Linked DNA regions of Homo sapiens: all the other regions are linked to region 1. A link means that fine-mapping ties the variant in region 1 to the expression of a gene that starts in the linked region. Tissue or cell type: whole blood. Region 1 holds a variant in brackets; each other region holds the start of a gene. Each region is shown on its reference strand, or each on the opposite one.

Region 1 (4,144 bases):
TAATGATAGAATCTAGTGGTGGGTATAAGGGCATTCACTGTAAAATTCAACTTTCCTGTACATTTCAAAGTTTTTCATACTAAAATGTTTCAGGGGGTTGGGGGTATATTAGGGTTATCTAGAGACACATAACTAATAGGATAGATGTATATATGAGAGGGAGTTTATTAAGGAGAATTGACTCACACAATCACAAGGTGAAGTCATACAATAGGCCTCCTGCAAGCTGAGGAGCAAGGAAGCCAGTGGTAGATCAATCCAAGCACCAAAAACTCAAAGATAGGGAAGCTCACAGTGCAGCCTTCAGTCTATGGCCAAAGGCCCGAGAGCCCATGGAAAACCACTGGTGTAAGTCCAAGAGTCCAAAAGCTGAAGTACTTGGAGTCTAATGTTCAAGGGCAGCAAGCATCTAGCACGGGAGAAAGATGAAGGCCGGAAGACTCAGCAAATCTGCCCTCCCATCTTCTCCTGCCTGCTTTATTCTAGCCGTGCTGGCAGCTGATTAGATGGTGCCCAACCAGACTGAGGGTGGGTCTCCTCACCCAGTCCACTGACTCAAATGTTAATCGTCTTTGGCAACACTCTGACAGAGATGCCCAGGAACAATGCTTTGCATCCTTCAATCTAATCAAGTTGACATTCAATATTAACCATCACAGGGGGCAAGAGGCTTTGTGTCAAATCCCTGTTGCTATGAGTGGTGAGACTAGAACAAAATGCCCAATACTCAAATTACCTCATTTTCTTGTTTTTTCTTCTTTTTGCCTCTAGATATGATACCTCATTTTTTTAATATGTGTAATGTAGATCATTACTGATCTCATATGGTTGATGAGAAAAATGACAATGTCAAGAACATTTCTGGCACTACTAGAGGCCCTCAAATCAAGGGTAGCCACCTGGTGGGGCAAAGAAACGCAGTTCAGGGATCACTGGAGTGGGCTGGTGAGAAACTTCTTTAAGGAGGTGGAGGAGCAGGGGCATTTCTGGGTTTTATTGTGCCTGGATGGCCATCTGATTACGTGTGGCTTAGCCTGGAAACCCTCAATGCAGGACTCCAACCCCAAGAAAGTGCTTCAAGGACACCCCAGGTGGACCCAGAGGGCAGCTACAAGCCGACTTTTATGCTCTGCCTCCAGAATGACTCCTTCCAATGCTCACTAATGCTTAGGGGCCTGAGGAGAAGTCTTTTATGCCCAGAAATGACAACCACTTCCTCTGACTCTAAGAACAGTCCATTTAGGCTATTTCATCTTTGCCAGTTTCATTTTAGGAAACACAAGCCTTATAACACAATCCTGAGGAAATCAGCTGTGAAATACACAGACTTTGTGCAGAGAAGTGGTGCAAGTGTGCAATGCTTCAGTCTTAGTGACTGAAGACAGCCAGCCCACATGCCCAGTACCAAAGGGGCACATGCTCCACACCAAATGGGCAAAAATTCCACAGCCGAGCCTGCCCAGACAAGGGGACCCGCTACACAACTCCACACCCTCAGCACTTTGTGACAGGACAATTACTGCCGCGTGACAGGACTCCAGTCCTGGGGCTGCTACCGGGTGCAAGTGACATGCTGGAAAGAGCGTGGTAGACATCTAGGGGCCAACTCTAGGAA[C/A]ATGTGTTTCTTATTCAGAATAGCTTTTTGTTTTGTTTGTTTTAACTTGTGAGGCTTCTTCACTACTCAGGGACGAAAGAAAGAGGAAAGAATGGAAAAAGTGAAACTACAGAACAGAAATTGTGCAACTTCCAGAAAACTGCTCTAAGACAAGCAAGAAGGCAGACCTGCTAAATGCCCATTATGACACTATTTGACTAAACAGGTTTGAAATACTCTGGCATAAAATGAAGGCCATCCCCTAATGGTTTGTTCTTGGTGTTGGACAAATCATAAAAGGACCAGACATTGCTGTGATGAATTATATGCCCTGGAGAGAGGCAGAAAGTGATTACACCACCTTCATTTGCACATGGAAAGGAAAACTAAAGGTAGTATCTTAAATCTTTCCTTCGCACAGTCTGCTTGCCTCTTGTCACAGAGCACGCCTGCGTGTCTCTAAAAGCATGTGATATTTTAGTGCTTTAATTAAGTATACATGTAAAGGCAAGAGTCCACCTGATACAACACTGATTTTTGAGACTGAATTTTATGCTGTGACCAGAGGACCACTGAACCATTTAAACAGAAAGACACCATGACAGACAACTCTCTAAAACAGAGCTAATCACTACCTAAAAGAGAAGTTTTAAAAAGATGAGAAGCCATGTGACAAGTCATATCAGAATGCAGTTTTAGGCCAGGCACAGTGGCTCACATCTGTAATCCCAATATTTTGGGAGGCCAACGTGGGACAATAACTTGACCCCAGGAATTCCAGACCAGCCTGGACAACACGGTGAAGCCCCATCTCTACCAAAAAAAAAAAAAAAAAAAAAAAATAGCTGGGTGTGACAGTGTGCACCTGTAGTCCCAGCTACTTAGGAGGCTGAGATGGGAGGATTGCTTTTGCCCAGAAGTTCGAGACTGCAGTGAGCTATCATATGATTGTGCCACTGCACTCGAGCCTGGGTGACAGAGCAAGACTCCATTTCTAAAAAAAACAAAAACAAAGCAGTTTTAGAAGATATTTTAAAGAAAAATGATCATGATGGTGACAGTTTCATTTCTTTTAAGGAATACAATGCATATCAACATTATGAACTATGTTTTTTATTTCTATATTTTCTTAGATATTTACTGTCTTTGTTTACAAAATAGTCACTTTCACAAAAAAACCCAAACCCAAACTACTGCTTTTGATGTTGTGCTATTGTACATAGAAATGTACACAGTAAGGTTCTGCAATGAAAAGCACGTACTCTTGAGACTTAGTACTGCTTTGATTCATTGTTCAGGCTACAATTTCCCCCCTTAGAATGTAAGAAAAGTTAGCGCTTGTCGCCAATAAATGGTAATACTAAAATGAACTAACTCCCACCTATGCAAAGAGAAAAATAATTGAAAAAAATGAGCAAAGTCTCTGAGATCTGTGGGAACAATATCAAGTTGTCTAACAGATAGTAGTTGGAGTCTCAGATGGAGGATAGTAATAGCATTTGACAAAATAATGGCTGAAAATGCTACACATCTGATGAAAGCGATAAGCCTGCAGATCTATGAATCTTAATAAACTCCAAAGCACAAAAAATAAAGCTACATGTGTTAAGACGGTAATACGACTGAAACTTATCTACTTATTGTTTGTTTGTTTGAACTTGTGAGGCTTCTTCACTACATAAGGTTGCCCTATCAAGATTTTGGTTAATTTCATTGTAGAAACTGACAAGCTGTTCCTAAAATTCATATGAAAATTCAAGGGAACCAGAATTACCAAAAAATCTTGAAAGAGTAGAACAAAGTTAAGGGGCCATCCTCCCTAATTTCAAAACTTACTACAAAGCTACAGTAATCAAGACAATGAGGTACTGGCATTAAGGCTAGCTATAGATTAATGAATAGAATCAAGCACCCATAAATAAACCCATATGTCTGTACCCAGTAGATTTCTGACAAGGATGCCAAGACAATTCAATGGGGAAAGAATAGTTTTTTTTCAATGAATGGATAAATAAAATGACATGTCCAAACAAAGAAATATATTTGGAAATAAAAATAAATGAAGTACTGATACATGCTACAACATGGGTGGCCTTTGAAAACATTATACTGTGTGAAGAAATCAATCACAAAGAACCACATATTATATGATCCCATTTATATGAAATGCCCAGAGTAGCCAAATCTAGAGAGACAGAAAGTAGATTAGTGACTGCCTAGGGCTAAAAGTGATGAAAGGAGTGGGGATGATGACTAAATGAAAAAGTCATAAACTTGATTATAGTGGAAAATGCACAACTCTATGAATATACTAAAAGCCATTTTAAATGGGTGAATTGTATGATATGTGAACTATATCTCAGTAAGTTGTTTTTTACAAAAAGAAAAGAAAACCATGCCAAGAGACACATCATAAAAATTGCTGAGAGCCAGTAATATAGAAAATAAATATCAGAAGTAGCTCAGGGATAGGGGAAAGACATAAAGTAAAAACACAAGCCACAAATTTGGGAGATAGGTTTGCTATTCCAGAATTATAAAAAGTGATTA
Region 2 (4,144 bases), not on the chromosome of region 1:
AGCACACAGATCCAAGCAAGACCCCATAAACAAGAGGCTGGGGCAAGAAAAGCTGAAGTGTACACACGGTAAGGAGACAACCCTGTTTTTCCAGGCCCCCTGGGCCTTCAGGGCAGTTACTTGACTTCTTATGGAGAAAATCACATCTAGAAACACTTTTCCACCCAGACTTCACTCCCCCATACACATGAAGAGACATGGTATCTGTCTACGCTCTCTCTCACACACACCTGCCTTGGAGGCACAGATGCCACTTTCTGAGGCACAGGCTGGAGAGGGGCCAGAAGAGCAGGGATTTAACTGGCATTAGATTAGCAGGAACTTGAGCAGGACTCTGTCCAGCCCCAACCTTTGCCCCAACTCTGACTGACACCCCCACAAGACCCCTCTAGGTGGATGAAAGGAGCAGAGGATCCCCATGGGAGTTTGTAGATCCAAACGGCTGAGAAGGCAGAAGTTTCGGCCTGAGAGGAAGGAATTCTCTCAGACTCCAGGTGGTCAGTCTGACTGGCTCTCATAGTTTGGAAGAATAACTGAGGAAAATAGAAAGGAGTTGTTGACAAGGGAGGAGTGACAAAGGTCCCACCGGCTCCCTGCTTCCACTGAAGAAGTCCTGAATAGTCTTCCTTGTTGAAAACTTTCAGGCAACAGAAGCAGGTCATGTACTAGAAGTCTACAAGCCATGGATGGAGCCAATGAGAGGTGTGTTATCCCTCCAGGCTGCAGGATGGGCCTCAAAATAAGCCAGATTGTAAAAAAGAGGTGGGTGAGAGGCAGTCAGAACAGTAGTCCTCAGCCTCATCTGGCCTACAGCTTGTCTGCAAAGTCCCACCAAAGGCCTCCACGGACCAAAACACTGCATGAGACTATGGCCCCAGGGGCAGGGAGACGCCGGTGGGTTTGAGAGACAGCTGGGGCGGTGTTGAAGGACACAGTGAGGGATCAGCCAGCCTATGGCCAGTGACAGGGGTAAAAGGAGGCCCTTCCTCCCAGGGGAAAATCTGGCCAGAGGCCCCAGTGAGGGAAGTGGGGGACCAGGGGAGAAAAGGATCCCTCTCTGGAACAGACTGTGCAGATCACGGTATGGTCAGCGCCAGGTCCTCAGGGACAGGACTGCAGGCAAGTCCTTACCCTTAGGAGCCCCTTTACATGTGCAGCCACTCACACCCCGGTGCGGTCATCCCGACTCCGGTATGCGGCAGCAACCGCCACCCACCCCTGCCCCAGCACAGATATGGGGGTGACTGCCTGCTGGAGGCCTGCTCGGACTCACTTCTCCAGGAACAGGGGCTCACTGCATTCGCCACGATCCTCAGAACCCCCTGAACCTGGGCCTGGCAACTCAGGTGACTGAAACCAGGTTTTGATGCCAGGAGCTAGGCTTAGGGAGGGAGAGACTCCAACTGCAGGCTAAAGATGAGTGCTCTACACCTGCAGTCAACCCACTTGCCACGGGCCTCTAGTGATTAACAAGCTACGGCCCAGAAAGCCAGTTCCACCAGGAGCTCCCTTGCCAGCCATCCACACCTCATAACGGTATGCCTTAGCCCTACCGGGCCGGGGCAGGCGCTCCGGGCCGCTCCTTCCTGTTTCCCGTTAAGCACATGGAAGCTCTGACCTCGCCTGCGAGGTGGGCACGGTGGGCCGGTAGGAAGAAAACGGGGCAGGGCCCTCCCCTCTCCTCCCACCCAAGCCACAGGACGCGTCCAGGCCAGGGCAACCCCGCGGGCCGCTGCCAGGGTGGAGGCTCTCGCGCCAATGGTCACCAAGCTCCTCCACTCCCCAACAAAGGGAAGCCCACGGCTCGGCCCCGTCGCCCGCAGCCCCCGCGTCCCCACCTTCCGCCCTACCTGTTGCCCGGGAAAGCTTCTCCGGCTCAGGGCGGCGCTGCCGCGGACACCGCGGCGCCAGGCCCGCCGGCCCCGGCCGCTCCCTTGAGGCGCTGCGCCCGCCTTACCCGGCGGCCGCCGCCATGAGCGCCCGCAGCGCCCCCCGCCAGCGCCGCCTCCCTCCTCGCCCCGGCCCCGCGGCCTTCCCAGCCCGACCCCTCCGCGGCCCCGCGACAAAGCGGCACCCGGGGCTCCCAACTTTTCCGCAGCCCCTTCCCACCCCCGCGCGGGGCTCGGGCGCCGGGCGGGGGCCCCGACTCACCCGGCGGCAGCGTTGGCGGGGCCGGGGCCGCTGCTCCGTGTACTCCGTCTGCTCGGGTGGTTGCTCCGAGGCCCCGAGGCCTGGCTCCCCGCGCCTCTCCTCCCTCTTCCGCCCGCCCGCCGGCCCGCGCCCGCCCTCGCCCTCCCTCCTCCGCCAGCCGCCGGCGCCGCCGCCGCCGCCCGCCGAGCCCAGTCGAGCTGAGCCCGAGCCCAGCCGGGAAAAAAAGGCCGCGAGCAGCCCAAGGGCCGGGAGGCTGGGCGTGACGGGAGGGGAGGGCGGGGCGGGCCTCTGCGCTGCGGCTGCCCCTTCGCCCCGGCGCGGGAGGCCAGACCCCAACCCTCCGCTCCCGGCCCCACAGCCGCGTCCACGCCCGTCACCTTGCGCTAGAGAAACCGCCGACCTGGGGAGGCGGGTGCGGGCTCCTTCCGCCACTTCGGTCTCTTTTCGGGGTGGGAGGTCTCCCACTGGGACCGACACAGACGCACTGGATGCCGCGGGGTCCCGGGCTCCGAGCGGCGGTGTCCCTGTCCCCTTACTCCTACCCACCCCCACCCACCCCCAACTGCTGTGCGGCCCCCGGTCCCCGCCAGGGTGGGCACATTCCCACTTCCAGCCCCACGGGGCGCGGGCGGAGGAGGGTGCAGCCCGGGGATCCTGCCCAAGTGCCTCGCGCCGAAGCTGAAAACCTCTCCAGGGCAGACCGAAGCAGCCGACCCTCGAGACCCAGTCGGAGCCTGCGATCACTCGGGCGACCCTCGCCTACCCCGCCGTAAAAGCCGCGGCCTTTCCACCTAGGTGCTACGGGACCTACCCCCGTGGCAAGGAAGAGCAAACCCGAACTTGCGCACACCCGGCGGCCCTGTCTGAAAGAGCCACCCCAACTTTTGTTTTGTAAAATGTATGAGTTTTCAAATGACACCACGTTTATCCGTATTCGATTTCGTGTTAAAAAGTGTTTTCCGGCCGGGCGCGGTGGCTCACGCCTGTAATCCCAGCACTTTGGGAGGCCGAGGCGGGCAGATCACCTGAGGTCAGGCGTTCGAGACCACCCTGGCCAACATGGTTAAACCCTGTCTCTACTAAAAATACAAAAATTAGCCGGGCACGGTGGCTCGCGCTTGTAATCCCAGCTACTCGGGAGGCTGAGCCACGAGAATCGCTTGAACCCTGGAGGTGGAGTTTGCAGTGAGCCGAGATCTCGCCACTGCACTCCAGCCTGGGCGACAGAGTGAGACTCCGTCTCAGGAAAAAAAAAAAAAAAGTGTTCTCCCCTTGGCCTGGCGCCGTGGCTTATGCCTGTAATCTCAGCACTTTGGGTGGCCGAGGTGGGCAGATCACTTGAGGTCAGAGTTCAAGACCAGCCTGGTCAACATAGCGAGACCCCCAACTCCTTTATAAATTTAAAAAAAAAAAGTTTTCCCCTTGAGTCGTGTGGTAAAATTACTGTTTCAGAAGTAATTACTGTTGGAAGATGCAACATGGTTTTCCTAGAAAGCTGGTCTTAACTCCTAACGTGAACGAGTGGTGACTAAGATGTATTTGAGGGCTCCTATACAGGGAGAGCTGCAGCTTACTCCATGGAGAGGTACTTTTGTCAAATTTCTCACCTAGATGAAGTATTGCCTTTTTTATGCTGTTGCAATCAGAGCCTCTGACAGTAGCTTGTTTCCCCGTTTATCTGGTCAAGTACTCGTAGGAAGGAGTGCAACCCCCACTAATCCAGTTGGAGGGCCCATCCCTCATCTCAGGCCCTTTCTGGAGGGTAAGGAGGTAGAGGCTGTCCGACCCAACTGTTTGTTCTGCCTCTCTTTTCAGGGGGACCCGCAGCCCTGACACACCATGGGAAAGATGAGAGTGGTGGCCCCTAACCAGCTCCCAGGGTTTCTCTAGGCTTTTCTAAGCCCCAGGCCTGCCTGATCTCCCAGTTTCCAGCAACCCCTCCAGCTGTGTTTTTCTCCTCCCTCCCTTATTAGCATATCTTCCATTGTATCTT
Region 3 (4,144 bases), not on the chromosome of region 1:
CCGGAAGCTCCTGCGTGCATCCCCGGGATGACCAGACTCCCGGACTCCTCAGGCAGTGCCCTTTCCTCCCACTTTTCCTCCCCCATAGCCACAGGCCTCTGCTCCTGCTCCTGCCTGCATGTTCTCTCTGTTGTTGGAGCCTGGAGCCTTGCTCTCTGGGCACAGAGGGGTCCACTCTCCTGCCTGCTGGGACCTATGGAAGGGGCTTCCTGGCCAAGGCCCCCTCTTCCAGAGGAGGAGCAGGGATCTGGGTTTCCTTTTTTTTTTCTGTTTTGGGTGTACTCTAGGGGCCAGGTTGGGAGGGGGAAGGTGAGGGCTTCGGGTGGTGCTATAATGTGGCACTGGATCTTGAGTAATAAATTTGCTGTGGTTTGTACACGGTGTTGTCTGTAGCCTGCAAAGGAGAGGCTAGGTTACTGGGTACCAAGAGACAACGTGGGAGAGGATCAAAGCAGCTAAGGCTGCAGGGCAACCCCACCCACACATACCCTCAGCTCAGCTTCTCCCTCCTTATTCTTGGGCTGGAAATACTGTAGGGTTTACAGTGGTGCAAATCTCATTCCTTCCCAGCTCCAAGGAGCCTTTGCTGAAGATTACAGGATCTCCCTTCATAGTTCCATGAACCACGTAATTGTTTCCCATCATTCTCGTAGCTACTTAGAGCCGTTCTTAATGTTTGCCTTACACATTAAAATTAGAGGGGGAGAGAATGTGCGTTAATAATACGAATCCTGAGGTACATTTCAGAAAATGTGATTCATCAGGACTAGTCTGATGCCCAACAATATGCATCTTTAAAATTACCCAGAGGAGGCCGGGCGCAGTGGCTCACGCTTGTAATCCCAGCACTCTGGGAGGCTGAGGCAGGCGGATCACGAGGTCAGAAGATCGAGACCACGGTGAAACCCCATCTCTACTAGAAAAAAAAAAATACAAAAAATTATCCAGGCGTGGTGGCAGGCACCTGTAGCCCCAGCTACTCAGGAGGCTGAGGCAGGAGAATGGTGTGAACCTGGGAGGCGGAGCTTGCAGTGAGCTGAGATCGTGCCACTGCACTCCAGCCTGGGTGACAGGGTGAGACTCCGTCTCAAAATAAATAAATAAATTAAATAAATAAATAAAATTACCCAGGGAATTCTGCCACTAATAGTCTATTACCCTTATTTTATAAAACATCGGTGGGGTCTGGGGCTTGTAGTTCCTTGCTGCACACCACTGAGACTCTTGCTACTTGGGAAGACCCCTCCTATGGGGAATAGGAAAGCAGGTATAAGGAACCACGGGTGGCTGGGCACTGTGGCTCATGCCTGTAATCCTAGCACTTTGGGAGGCTGAGGTAGGAGGATTGCTTGAGCCCAGAAGTTAAAGACCAGCCTGGGCAACATGGCAAGACCCCATCTCTACAAAAAACAAAAATAAAAAATTACCTGGGCATGGAGATGGACACCTGTGGTCCCAGCACCTCAGGAGGCTGAGGCGGGAGGATCGCTTGAGCTTGGGAGATCAAGGCTGCAGTCAACTGAGATGCACTCCAACCTGGCTAGCAGAGCAAGACCCTGACTCAGAAAAAGGAACCAGGGGTGTGGCTTATTCCCCAAGTGTGATCGACTGCCCATTTTCCCTTGGATCCTAGCCAGGCTTAGGCAGAACTCATCATCACTTGTTTTTGCCTTTGTTTTTCTTTCATGTCACTTTTCCAGGTTCTGAGCTGGGTTTTCTCCTCAAGCTTTGCAGGAAGTGAGTCCAAGAGACTATAACTCAGAGATTCTTTGGAGGGGAAAGATACCCTTGCAGGAGCTCTATCTGCCCAGCCAGATGTCCTACCCACTGGCAGAGCAGCTGGGGTTGAGGAGGGGTGCTTGGTGCTCTCTCCACCTAGGCCCTTCTCCTTACCCAGGTCCTGAGCCAGCCTTCCTGATGAATATGAGTAATTTGATGTCAACTGATTAACTAGGGTTTCCTCATACTCCCTGCAAAATAGCATCTGGAACATTTTGACCTCATCCTCCTAAGGGCCATAAAAGCTGATAGATTTTTCTTGGTTATCTTGAACTTAACAAAATACTTGAGTTGCAAGGGAGCCAGGCAGAACTCACTTCCTTGGGAGAAAGGAGGTTGCTTTCTATCCTGTTACCAGAATGAGAAACGGAGGTAAAGAAAGGAAAAAACTTGCCTAAATTCACAGGTTGAAGTTCCGGATCCTGGTCTCAGCTCAGCCTACTTTGGTGCCCAAAGGGGAATAGGAAGGCAAACACCGGAGGCTCTGCACCCGCCTCCTCTAGGCCATGGATTAATGCTGCTGCGCCAGGGCCCTTTCCCCACTGTGGTGTGATAAGAGGCTGCCCTCACAGTCACAATGCTCCCGGGTCACAGAGGTGCTGGGCCCCAGGCCAGCCTCTGCCTGGGAAGTTCTCTCTGGGAACATCTGGTGGGTACTACAGGCCCTATTCCAGGCCCTATGGCCTGTGGAACCTCACCACGGGGGGGAGGGCTGGGCCAGACGGAGACATCACCTGTGGTGTCAGCCCCATGGATGAGACAGAGTGGATACACAGACATCCCAAGGCTGAGGACCTAAGGGTTGGGCTCATCAGCTGGGCAGGAACCTACCTCACCTTTGAGGCATGCAAGAATACAGTCACTGCAACTGCGAAGAGTTTGGGCAGGAGACAGGTGACAAAGCAAACCCATGCTGGCACCAGTTTTCTGAGTGGCCAAGCTGTGTGTGTGTGTGTGCGCGCGCGCGTGTGTGTGCGTGAGTGTATGTGTGTGTGTGTGTGTATGTACTTGCCTGTATATGAAAGTATACTGGAACCGGTTTTCTGAGTGGCCAAGCTGTGTGTGTGTGTGTGTGTGTGTGTGTGTGTGTGTGTACTTGCCTGTATATGAAAGTATACTGGAACCAGTTTTCTGAGTGGCCAAGCTGTGTGTGTGTGTGTGTGTGTGTGTGTGTGTGCGCACTTGCCTGTATATGAAAGCAGGGTGTACTCTCAACCTAATCACTTTCCTAGGTTCTGCCAGTGCCAGGCCTGAGACTTTTCTACTCTAGGCTTTTGTTCACAGACCCTATTGCCCCATCTCCCACCTCTCAATTTATTCCGCAAGGTGAAGCCTCAGCCTTGCCCTTGCTGCCTTGTCCTGCTCTAACTGTCCCTATTCCCCATCCCAGCACAGGGTGGTTGTGTCAGAAAGAAGAGAAGTGGAGAGCACAGGGTGGTTGTGTCAGAAAGAGGAGAAGTGGAGAGCCCAGGTGGGAAAGCAGAATTGTGGGCATCCAGGGGAAGTTGGACCAGTGGAGTTATTGCAAAGCCTATGTTTCTGTTCTGGTTGTGGTTTGAGAATGGGGAACTCCAGAAGCCCTAGCAGTGTCGGTCTTCATTCTAGAGAGGAATGTAGGCACCTCTGGGATGGGTGCCAGACTGAGGCAGGGGCAAAGTTCTTCCTCTTATAACAAGGTTGATCACAGCTGAACCAGGCAGTTGCATCTGAACTGTTCATGCTCCCATCTTCATCCCTGGAGCCAGGGCCTGCCTATAAGAGCTTTTGCTTCTGTCTTGCCATGCTGGAAGGCAACCTTTGGGGATGGAGGTATTGGCTAAGTGTGCTCTCTGCGGACAACAGTGAGGAAGAAAAAAGTAAGACTTACACCAAAGCGTTTCTTTAAAAATTAGGTATTGAAGAGTGGGATTAAGAAAGGAGGGAGGGTTTACCTTCTGTTAGCTGAAGGAGGTAGACATCTAGAACTTCTCTTTGGATAGTGCCATCTGGCTGCAGGGGTGGAAGGGCCCAGAGATCTCTTGATGAGGGGATAGTGGGAAAGTGGAAGAGCTGACAGCAAGGAGATACCAGGGCTGATGTGGAAGAGGAGGTGGCTGGTGCTGATGAAGGTGCCAGGGTGATACCAGCCATGACAGTTGCAGGGCTCCTTGGTCTGGTAACTTCGTGATACTGATTTCCCTCTTCTCCCTCCTGATGCCTCCAGACCTGGGAGATCTTGGTGAGCAATGAGCATGAGACACAGGCCGTGGTGCGACTAAAGAGCGTGCAGGGCCTCTACCTGCTGTGTGAGTGTGATGGCACCGTGTGTTATGGCCGCCCAAGGACCAGCCACCATGGGTGCTTTCTACTGCGTTTCCACCGGAAC
Region 4 (4,144 bases), not on the chromosome of region 1:
TGTATCTGAGAGCTTCAAGTCTCCAAATGGCCTACCTCATACATGGGGAAACTGAGGCCTGGGGAGGCCGGGGACTGAGCTAGCATTCACTTGTGGAAATAGTCTGGCATCATCTGGAGAAGTTAGAGACATGCAAACCCTACAGCCCTCAGATTCCCGTCTGAGAGTCTGCATGCCTATGTGGACCAGGAGATGTGTGCGGGAGTGAACACTGCAGTGTTGCTCCCAACAGCAAGAACCAGAAGCAGCCCAAAGGGCTGTTACAGGAGAATATGGACACCCAGGCTGCACATGCACACCATGGAATGCTGTATGGCAGTGGAAATAAATGAACAGCTACCACTATAGGCAAACAGGAATCACAGCAACAGCCAAGAGTGAAGGCGTGGAGGGACGAGACCATGCACTCACACCTGGCCTGCCTGGCTCGCACTCCGGGCAAAGGGGTCAGAACAGTGACTGGCACACACGTTAAGTGCTATGTGAGTGTTAAGATAAAACTAGGATGTCCAGTGGGGAGAAAGCAAGCCTTTGAAGATTATGTGCTTTTACAAACTTCAAGTGCAATGAAAACTAAACAAGATGTTGTTCAGGCATTCATATATGATATAAAGTTCCTTTCTTTAAAAAAGGGATGGGCTGGGCACGGTGGCTCACGCCTGTAATTCTAATACTTTGGGAGGCCGAGGCAGGTGGATCACGAGGTCGAGAAATCGAGACCATCCTGGCCAACATGGTGAAACCCTGTCTCTACTAAAAATACAAAAAAATTAGCTGGGCGTGGTGGCGTGTGCCTGTAGTCCCAGCTACTTGGGAGGCTGAGGCAGGAGAGTCACTTGAACCCGGGAGGCAAAGGTTGCAGTGAGCCGAGATCGTGCCACCGCACTCCAGCCTGGCGACAGAGTGAGACTCCATCTCAAAAAAAAAAAGAAAAAAAAAAGTATGACAAGCAGAAAGTAATTTGGGAGCTGCGGGGAGGCAAGGGTAAGGGATGGGGAAGTGGACCAGAGGCATATGCGTCATTGGCAGTGTCTAAGCACTCACGATAGGCGTGGATCACAGGGGCTCGCTCTGTAATTAAAAGGAAAAGGGTTTTTGTTGTGTTGTTGTTGTTGCTGTTTTTGAGACAAGGGTCTTGCTCTGTCATCATCCAGGCTGGAGTGCAGTGGTGCAGTCTCAGCTCACTGCAACCTCCGCCTCCTGGGTTCAAGCGATTCTCCTGCCTCAGCCTCCTGAGCAGCTAGGACTACAGGTGTGTGCCACCATGCCTGGCTAATTTTTGTATTTTTTAGTGGAAATGGGGTTTTGCCATGTTGCCCAGGCTCGTCTTGAACTCCTGACCTCAAGTGATCCACTCGTCTCGGCCTCCCAAAGTGCTGGGATTACAGGTGTGAGCTATTGTCCCCAGCCAAAAGGAAAAGTTTTACTGTAGTAACCCTTCCGGACTAGGGACCTCGGGCCTCAGCCTCAGGCTACCTAGGTGCTTTAGAAAGGAGGCCACCCAGGCCCATGACTACTCCTTGCCACAGGGAGCCCTGCACACAGATGTGCTAAGCTCTCGCTGCCAGCCAGAGGGAGGAGGGTCTGAGCCAGTCAGAAGGAGATGGGCCCCAGAGAGTAAGAAAGGGGGAGGAGGACCCAAGCTGATCCAAAAGGTGGGTCTAAGCAGTCAAGTGGAGGAGGGTTCCAATCTGATGGCGGAGGGCCCAAGCTCAGCCTAACGAGGAGGCCAGGCCCACCAAGGGGCCCCTGGAGGACTTGTTTCCCTTGTCCCTTGTGGTTTTTTGCATTTCCTGTTCCCTTGCTGCTCATTGCGGAAGTTCCTCTTCTTACCCTGCACCCAGAGCCTCGCCAGAGAAGACAAGGGCAGAAAGCACCATGAGTGGGGGCCCAATGGGAGGAAGGCCCGGGGGCCGAGGAGCACCAGCGGTTCAGCAGAACATACCCTCCACCCTCCTCCAGGACCACGAGAACCAGCGACTCTTTGAGATGCTTGGACGAAAATGCTTGGTGAGCTGGGGATCTCCTGCCCCCGCCCCGTCCCCACCGTTTCTTCCTCTTCCTCTCCTCCTTCTCTCTCTTCCCCTCCTCCCGCTCCTCCTTTCCCTCTCCATCATCTCCTCTCCTAGAATTTCCCGTCATAATCCACCCTTCCCAGGAAGATCTCAATGTCTACTTGCCTTCCCTCTGGCTGCAGCTCTTCCTTTGGGCCCATGACTGTCATGAGGCAGGAAGGACCAGGTCTGGCTCCAAGACCTTGTGGCTACCCCTGACCAGACTCCACTGACCCCTGCTTTCCTCTCCCAGACGCTGGCCACTGCAGTTGTTCAGCTGTACCTGGCGCTGCCCCCTGGAGCTGAGCACTGGACCAAGGAGCATTGTGGGGCTGTGTGCTTCGTGAAGGATAACCCCCAGAAGTCCTACTTCATCCGCCTTTACGGCCTTCAGGTGACCCCCCCACCCCCGACTGGACTTGCAAGCCAGTTCTCAACCCGCAAACCCAGATCTGTGTCCATATGTGTCCATAGCTTCAAGACCTCAGACCTGATCAGTGAATCCCTGAGCCCCAGAACCAAAGACTCATCCAGATGGCAAACTCTGACTTGCCTTTCTAAGTCTGCAATGACTGGCCCCAGTCTCCGTATCAAGATCTCTAAAGCCCCCAGTATTAGTCTGCTGCCTAAGCCTAATCTTTTCCACAAATTCCAATAAATGAGCACTGTATTTGTACCTGAACCTCAAATCTATTCTAAACTCAACATTTTGCATCCCAGGAATCTCTCATCAAAACTCCTGAACCCCAGATGTTTGCCAAGCTCCTAAGTCATAAATCTGTTCAACAAACCCCAAAGTTGAATATTCCATTGATCCTTGAACTCCAAATCTGTCCTTCTAAATCCACAGCACAGACCCCAGAGTTCCCATATTAAAATTCCTGAACACTCAAATACCGAGGTAGTTCTTAAGCAAAAAGTCTTTTCCACAATCCCCTGACCTGAACTTTCTAGGTTTAAGCCCCAAATTCATCCTTTTAAACCCATAAAGATGGACCCAGCATAACTTCCAGATCCCAAGGCTATCAAATATCCACCAAACTCCTAAACCATAACTCTCTCCACAAACCCCAAATTGCACTTACTTTAGCTGGACTCCCCGCGAAACTCCCAAGTCTATGTGTCTGAACTTCAAATCTCAACTCCAACCCCCAAATACTAGAATCCTACCTGTCATGAATTGGGGCTGGGGTGGTGGGGGAGGGCATGGATTGAATCTGTGAATGAGCCTCAACTTCCTAAGACTAGAGTCCTAAATTATGAAATTCAAGCCCCCAAGTCCCAGATCTAGGGCCCCAAACCCCAAATCCAAACCTCTCACAAAAGTGTATGGCTCCCAGACTATACCCCACAATCCACACCCTTAGACACCAACTCTCTGGTGCTGAGCTGAAAATCTCCAAACCAGACTATGAGGCTCCCAAATCCAGACACCCTGCTCCCTGCCCAGCTAACAAAAGCCTGCCACCCCCGGCGTGCCTCAGTGCCACTGTGCCTCCCACCCTACACCTCTCCAGGCTGGTCGGCTGCTCTGGGAACAGGAGCTGTACTCACAGCTTGTCTACTCCACCCCCACCCCCTTCTTCCACACCTTCGCTGGAGATGTAAGTGATCAACCAGCCCTCGGGCCTCACTTGGGGTGTGGAGAGGAGATGGGAAAGTTGCGGGGGACCTGGGAGGCGGCTGACCCCAAGGTATGTGCAGGACTGCCAAGCGGGGCTGAACTTTGCAGACGAGGACGAGGCCCAGGCCTTCCGGGCCCTCGTGCAGGAGAAGATACAAAAAAGGAATCAGAGGCAAAGTGGAGGTGAGGAGGCCACAGGGGAGGAAAGGAAGTTGGGCAGAGGTGAGTGCAAGCCTGGGGAACTAGAAAAGTCCCCTCTCATGGTCCTGGCTCCCAATCCATCTATCCACAGACAGACGCCAGCTACCCCCACCACCAACACCAGCCAATGAAGGTGAGTCCTCTAGTGCAAGTAGGGGTAATAAGGGGCTAGCCCAGGAACCTGTGGCAGGGCTGTGATAACTCTCTACACATTCCATCTTCCCAGAGAGAAGAGGAGGGCTCCCACCCCTGCCCCTGCATCCAG
Region 5 (4,000 bases), not on the chromosome of region 1:
AAGAAGTGAGGAACACGGATATCTATGGCTCAGAACACCACGGCCACTCCTTCTCTTCTAGAAAGGATGAGGCCTGGGACCCAGGGTCAGGTCAGAATAAGGGGCAGAGTGGCCAAGGGCTCAGAACACAACTGCTCTATTCCTCTCAGCCACAAATAGCTTCCTAAGCTGGATTCAGGGCCCAGTAATCTGGGAACAGCAAACCTCAGACCTGCATGATTAGGGTCAGAAGAGACCAGGCAAGGGGTGCCAGGGTGGAAATCCCTGGAACTCTGTTCTCAATTCCTGCACAGGAAGGGGTTCTCATGAAGCCCTTTCCTCTACTTACCCTTCACAGATGCCCCATCTCTAAGGGCTATGAATTTCCTCCAAATTAGGAGACAAATGGTGGTACATGAGCTGGAAGCTCCCTCTAGTTGCAAAATAAACCCCCAAAGTTACTCAGGACTCAGTCAGTCTGAGAAAGTTCTGCCCCAGAGCTAAGCTGAATCCTAAATGCTGCTATTGCAAATTGTAGCCCAACTGGCTTCAACATCAGCCTGGTCCAGCCTCCCTCTCTCCATTGATGCCTGCTTGGGCAAGGGAGCTCAGTACTCTGGGGGCCCAGCTAAGAATGGCTGCTGCCTAGCTCAGTAAGGAGAGAGGAATTGGCCCCCAGGGACCCAGGAGCACAGGCTCAAGGCTGTCTCCCCTCCACAGCTCTGTCTGGGAGTCCGGTGTTCTGCTGCTTTGGAAGCTCTAGGGCTCAGGTCCACTCCAATACATGCCCCCCATACCCACAGAGAGGCCCCCCCCAACAGTTATTCTCACAAAGGGGGCCAGGGCAGGTTGCTGGTGAATGTGGCCAAGGTGGAGAGCCACTGTCTCTCCATGCACCTTTCATCCTTTGAGGCTCATCCAAAGCCTCTGCTATGAGGTTTCCTAGCCCTCGTTCCCTGCCTATGATGACCCCCTCCCCTGCCCTGAAAGCCAAGTTGTTTGACTCCAGGCAGCAGCTATGAGCAGCCCTGTAGGGCCCAAAAATACTACTGATCAAAGAGCCCAATGTACACAGCATGCATAGATGCCAGGCACTGTACAGAATCAGAGGACTTATCTTCACAATAATCTTACGAGAAAGGTATCATTATCCCCATTTTACAGATGAAAAGACATGCTCAGAGAGGTGAGGTTACTTGCCCAAGGTCACACAGACAATTATATGGCAGAGTTGGAACTCCAACCCAGGCAGTCCAGCTCAGAAACTCTTAACCACAGTGGAGACCAAGCCTCCCTTGATGACAGAGCCCCCAGAAGAGGACAGGTGCTAGTCCAGGCTTGGAGGGACATTATGCCACTCCCCATGAGAGGAACCACAGCCAACACACTAAAGCTGCCTGCTCAGTTTCTTTCCCGGGGAAGAAAATGGCCCAAGTCTTCCTGGAGGATCAGGGTGAGGGTATTAATGGTTGGGGAGACATGAAGAGTCTGAATGCCTCCCAAGTAACTCAGCCTCCACCTAGCCTCCAGCGTGGGGGCTGAGGACAGGCTGCACTCAGCCCCTCTCTTCATTAGTGCAGGGACGGGCCTCAAAGCGCTCTGGAGACTCCACAGCTACAGGGCTATGGTTGCAGCTGCTGCCGCACGTACCTCCACGCTGGGAAAAGGGGACGGGCCCCTGGAAAAGGAAGGAATAAATCTCGAAAGGGAGAAGAAGGAGGCACAGAGAGAGATCAAGGGAAGGGGGTACACAGAGATCTCAGACCTGGCGGCAGAAGGGAGAGCAGGGGACACAGGAGAGGGGACTCGGTGGGGGAGGGGAGGCGGGAAAGGGGGCGGGGGCCAGGGCTTGGCGCGCCGGGAGGGCCCCTCGCACCCTCTCCCCTTCCCACCCGCGGGCGGCGCTCCCTCGCGGGTGCTCACCACCGGTGATCCGCTGCAGCCCCAGCACGTCCTCCGGCCCGATCGGCTGCTTCCTCTGCAGCGGCCCCGGCCTGGGCCCTGGGCCTGCGTCCGGCTCCGACTCGGACCCAGATTCGGATTCCGCAGGCGGCTGTGGTATGGGGGCCACGCTCTGGCCCGAGGGCCCCGGAGCGGACTCCGTCGCCGTCCCGGCCCCACCGCCGCCCTTCTTCACCTTCATGGCCTTGCGGGGCCGAGGCTCGCCTGCTGCTGCCGCCGCTGCCTGCGCCGGCTGGAGCCGGGGGAAGTGGGAGCATCCGCAGCCCCGCCCCCGGCCGGGGCCCCAGGTACTGCCCCGCCCCGGCCCCGCCCCTGGGGTGGGCCCTGCGCTGATCCCGCCCGCCGCCCGGCCCAACCCTCCCGAAATGCGACGGGCGCGGGGGATGGGAGTCGGGGTATCCTGCCCTGGGCTTCATTCTGTTTTTCTAACACTTTCTTGTACTGGTACTAGTGGGGTCCTGACTACCTCTCCGCTTACTCATTGTGTTCCAGCCTTTCTGCCCGTGAGTTCCAGGCTCAGGGTCTCTGCTTGGATGGTCTTCCCCAGATGGCCTCTTTTCTCCTAGTCACAGCTCAAATGTCATCTGCTCAAAGGGCCTCCCTCACACCCAGTCTGAAGTCCTTCCCCCTCAGTCACCATCTGACCAGCCTGTTTTTGTCTTTCTAATGCATTATGTGAAATTATTTTTATTTGTCCGCTGACTCTTCCCCCTGAAAGCTCAGCTCTGTGAAAGCACTGGTCCTGCCTACTTTGTTCTCTGTAGGACCCCTGTACCTAGCAGAAGGCTCCCTGCAGCTGGTGCTCAAGACTTTTTTTTTTTTTTTTTTTTTTTTTTTGACCTGATGAATTAGTATCTCAGGTAAAAAGCAGATGCTAACAGCCTTGGGCAATCCAGCTAGGAAGGGCACATGGCCACGTGGAAGCAAAGTGGACCTGTGGGCACAGGAGGACAAACACCAGGAAACTGTTACTTACGCGTGAATGCAGAAAGAGTAGAGCTCAGACTTTGTATCATTCCAATTCATATTCAGCCAGTGTTTATTAAGAGCCTACTACACGCCAGACACTTTACATGCTGATCACATTTACTCCTCACAACCATCTTGTAAGGGAGACATCATCAGTGCCATTTGAACAAATGAAAAACTGAGGCTCAGAGAGATTCAATACCTTATCCAAAGCTCTCCAGACAATAAGTGCAAAAACAAGGATTTGAATTCAGGACTGTTTGATTCCAAATCTGGAACTTTCTGGAACCTCTGACACACACACACACACACACACACACACACACACACAGCACCATGTCCTGAGCTGCTGCCTCCTGGACTCCCGCCAGACTGCACCTGACAGACAAAGCCAACTAGGAGGGAGGGGAGTGAGGGAGAAGGTCCCACAGGTGACCAATGCCTGGCCCCTTCATGACAGCAGGGGCTAGGGCTGTCCCACAGGGACTAGAGAGAGGTGTGGAAGGCAGGGACTTTCCCATAATGCTCCCTCCTCTCAGTGCACAAGTGTGCTATGTTGAGAAATGGGGCAAAAGAACAAACAGTCCTTGCCACAGAGGGAGACAGGCAGCAGCCTTATCAAACAAGATAAGGAGACCCGGATGATGTGCCTTTTGAGGCCCCTGGTGGTGGAGGAGGATTGAGCCAGGTGAATGGGAAAGGAAGAAAAGATGAACCCATCTTGGAGTGTTGTACTTTGGTTGCTGGAGAGCCAACAGTGGAGACTGGAGACAAATATTTAAGTCATTCCGGCAGGCCCCATGTACGTGCCTCACAATCTAACACCGCCCACCTTGGCCAGAAAGGAAGGCTTCCTATGGAGGTGCTGCCCTGCTCAGTCTGTCTTCTCAGGCTTTCTCCAGGACTTGCGGGTCTCCAGGAAGATCTTGACCAGGGACAGGAGGATGGGCACAGCCATAGGCAGGAAGAGTGGGATGTAGATGGCAAACTTCTGGTCATCAGGGAAATAAAGGAGGTGGAGGAGTGACGGGTCAAAGAAGGCAAGCTCAGAGGATGTCACAGCTTCCTGGCTGGCGACAAAGGCAGATGC

What was found. PIP is the estimated chance that this variant, and not a neighbour inherited with it, causes the effect.
Region 2: it holds the start of CERS2, and the variant in region 1 is fine-mapped to the expression of CERS2 in whole blood (TOPMed, PIP above 0.99).
Region 3: it holds the start of FSCN3, and the variant in region 1 is fine-mapped to the expression of FSCN3 in whole blood (TOPMed, PIP 0.98).
Region 4: it holds the start of WAS, and the variant in region 1 is fine-mapped to the expression of WAS in whole blood (TOPMed, PIP 0.93).
Region 5: it holds the start of UNC119, and the variant in region 1 is fine-mapped to the expression of UNC119 in whole blood (TOPMed, PIP above 0.99).

What each region holds. Positions count from the first base shown.
Region 1 is chr6:144,035,004-144,039,147 of GRCh38, forward strand. It overlaps a transcript of PLAGL1 not described here and the pseudogene LOC100131041. Among named protein-coding and RNA genes, the nearest start is that of PLAGL1, 29 kb to the left of the region's middle. RefSeq lists an enhancer at 1,558-1,607. The variant C/A (reference allele first, on the strand shown) is at 1,616.
Region 2 is chr1:150,972,468-150,976,611 of GRCh38, forward strand. CERS2 (ceramide synthase 2) reads right to left here and starts at 2,368. Exons shown (of 11, transcript NM_022075.5): 1 at 2,152-2,368. RefSeq lists enhancers at 586-1,517, 1,475-1,619, a cis regulatory region at 1,547 and silencers at 1,723-2,212, 2,233-2,672.
Region 3 is chr7:127,591,325-127,595,468 of GRCh38, forward strand. It overlaps FSCN3 (fascin actin-bundling protein 3), which reads left to right and starts at 2,412. Exons shown (of 7, transcript NM_020369.3): 1 at 2,412-2,673; 2 at 3,983-4,144. The coding sequence starts at 2,530. It overlaps ARF5 (ARF GTPase 5), which reads left to right. Exons shown (of 6, transcript NM_001662.4): 6 at 1-376. It overlaps LOC105375489 (a long non-coding RNA gene), which reads right to left and starts at 916. Exons shown (of 3, transcript XR_007060513.1): 1 at 805-916; 2 at 489-680.
Region 4 is chrX:48,681,976-48,686,119 of GRCh38, forward strand. WAS (WASP actin nucleation promoting factor) reads left to right here and starts at 1,824. Exons shown (of 12, transcript NM_000377.3): 1 at 1,824-2,010; 2 at 2,308-2,448; 3 at 3,572-3,658; 4 at 3,759-3,861; 5 at 3,971-4,012; 6 at 4,106-4,144. The coding sequence starts at 1,879.
Region 5 is chr17:28,550,436-28,554,435 of GRCh38, forward strand. UNC119 (unc-119 lipid binding chaperone) reads right to left here and starts at 2,189. Exons shown (of 5, transcript NM_005148.4): 1 at 1,903-2,189. The coding sequence starts at 2,122. It overlaps PIGS (phosphatidylinositol glycan anchor biosynthesis class S), which reads right to left. Exons shown (of 12, transcript NM_033198.4): 12 at 2,952-4,000. The coding sequence ends at 3,785. RefSeq lists silencers at 1,806-1,855, 1,916-2,365.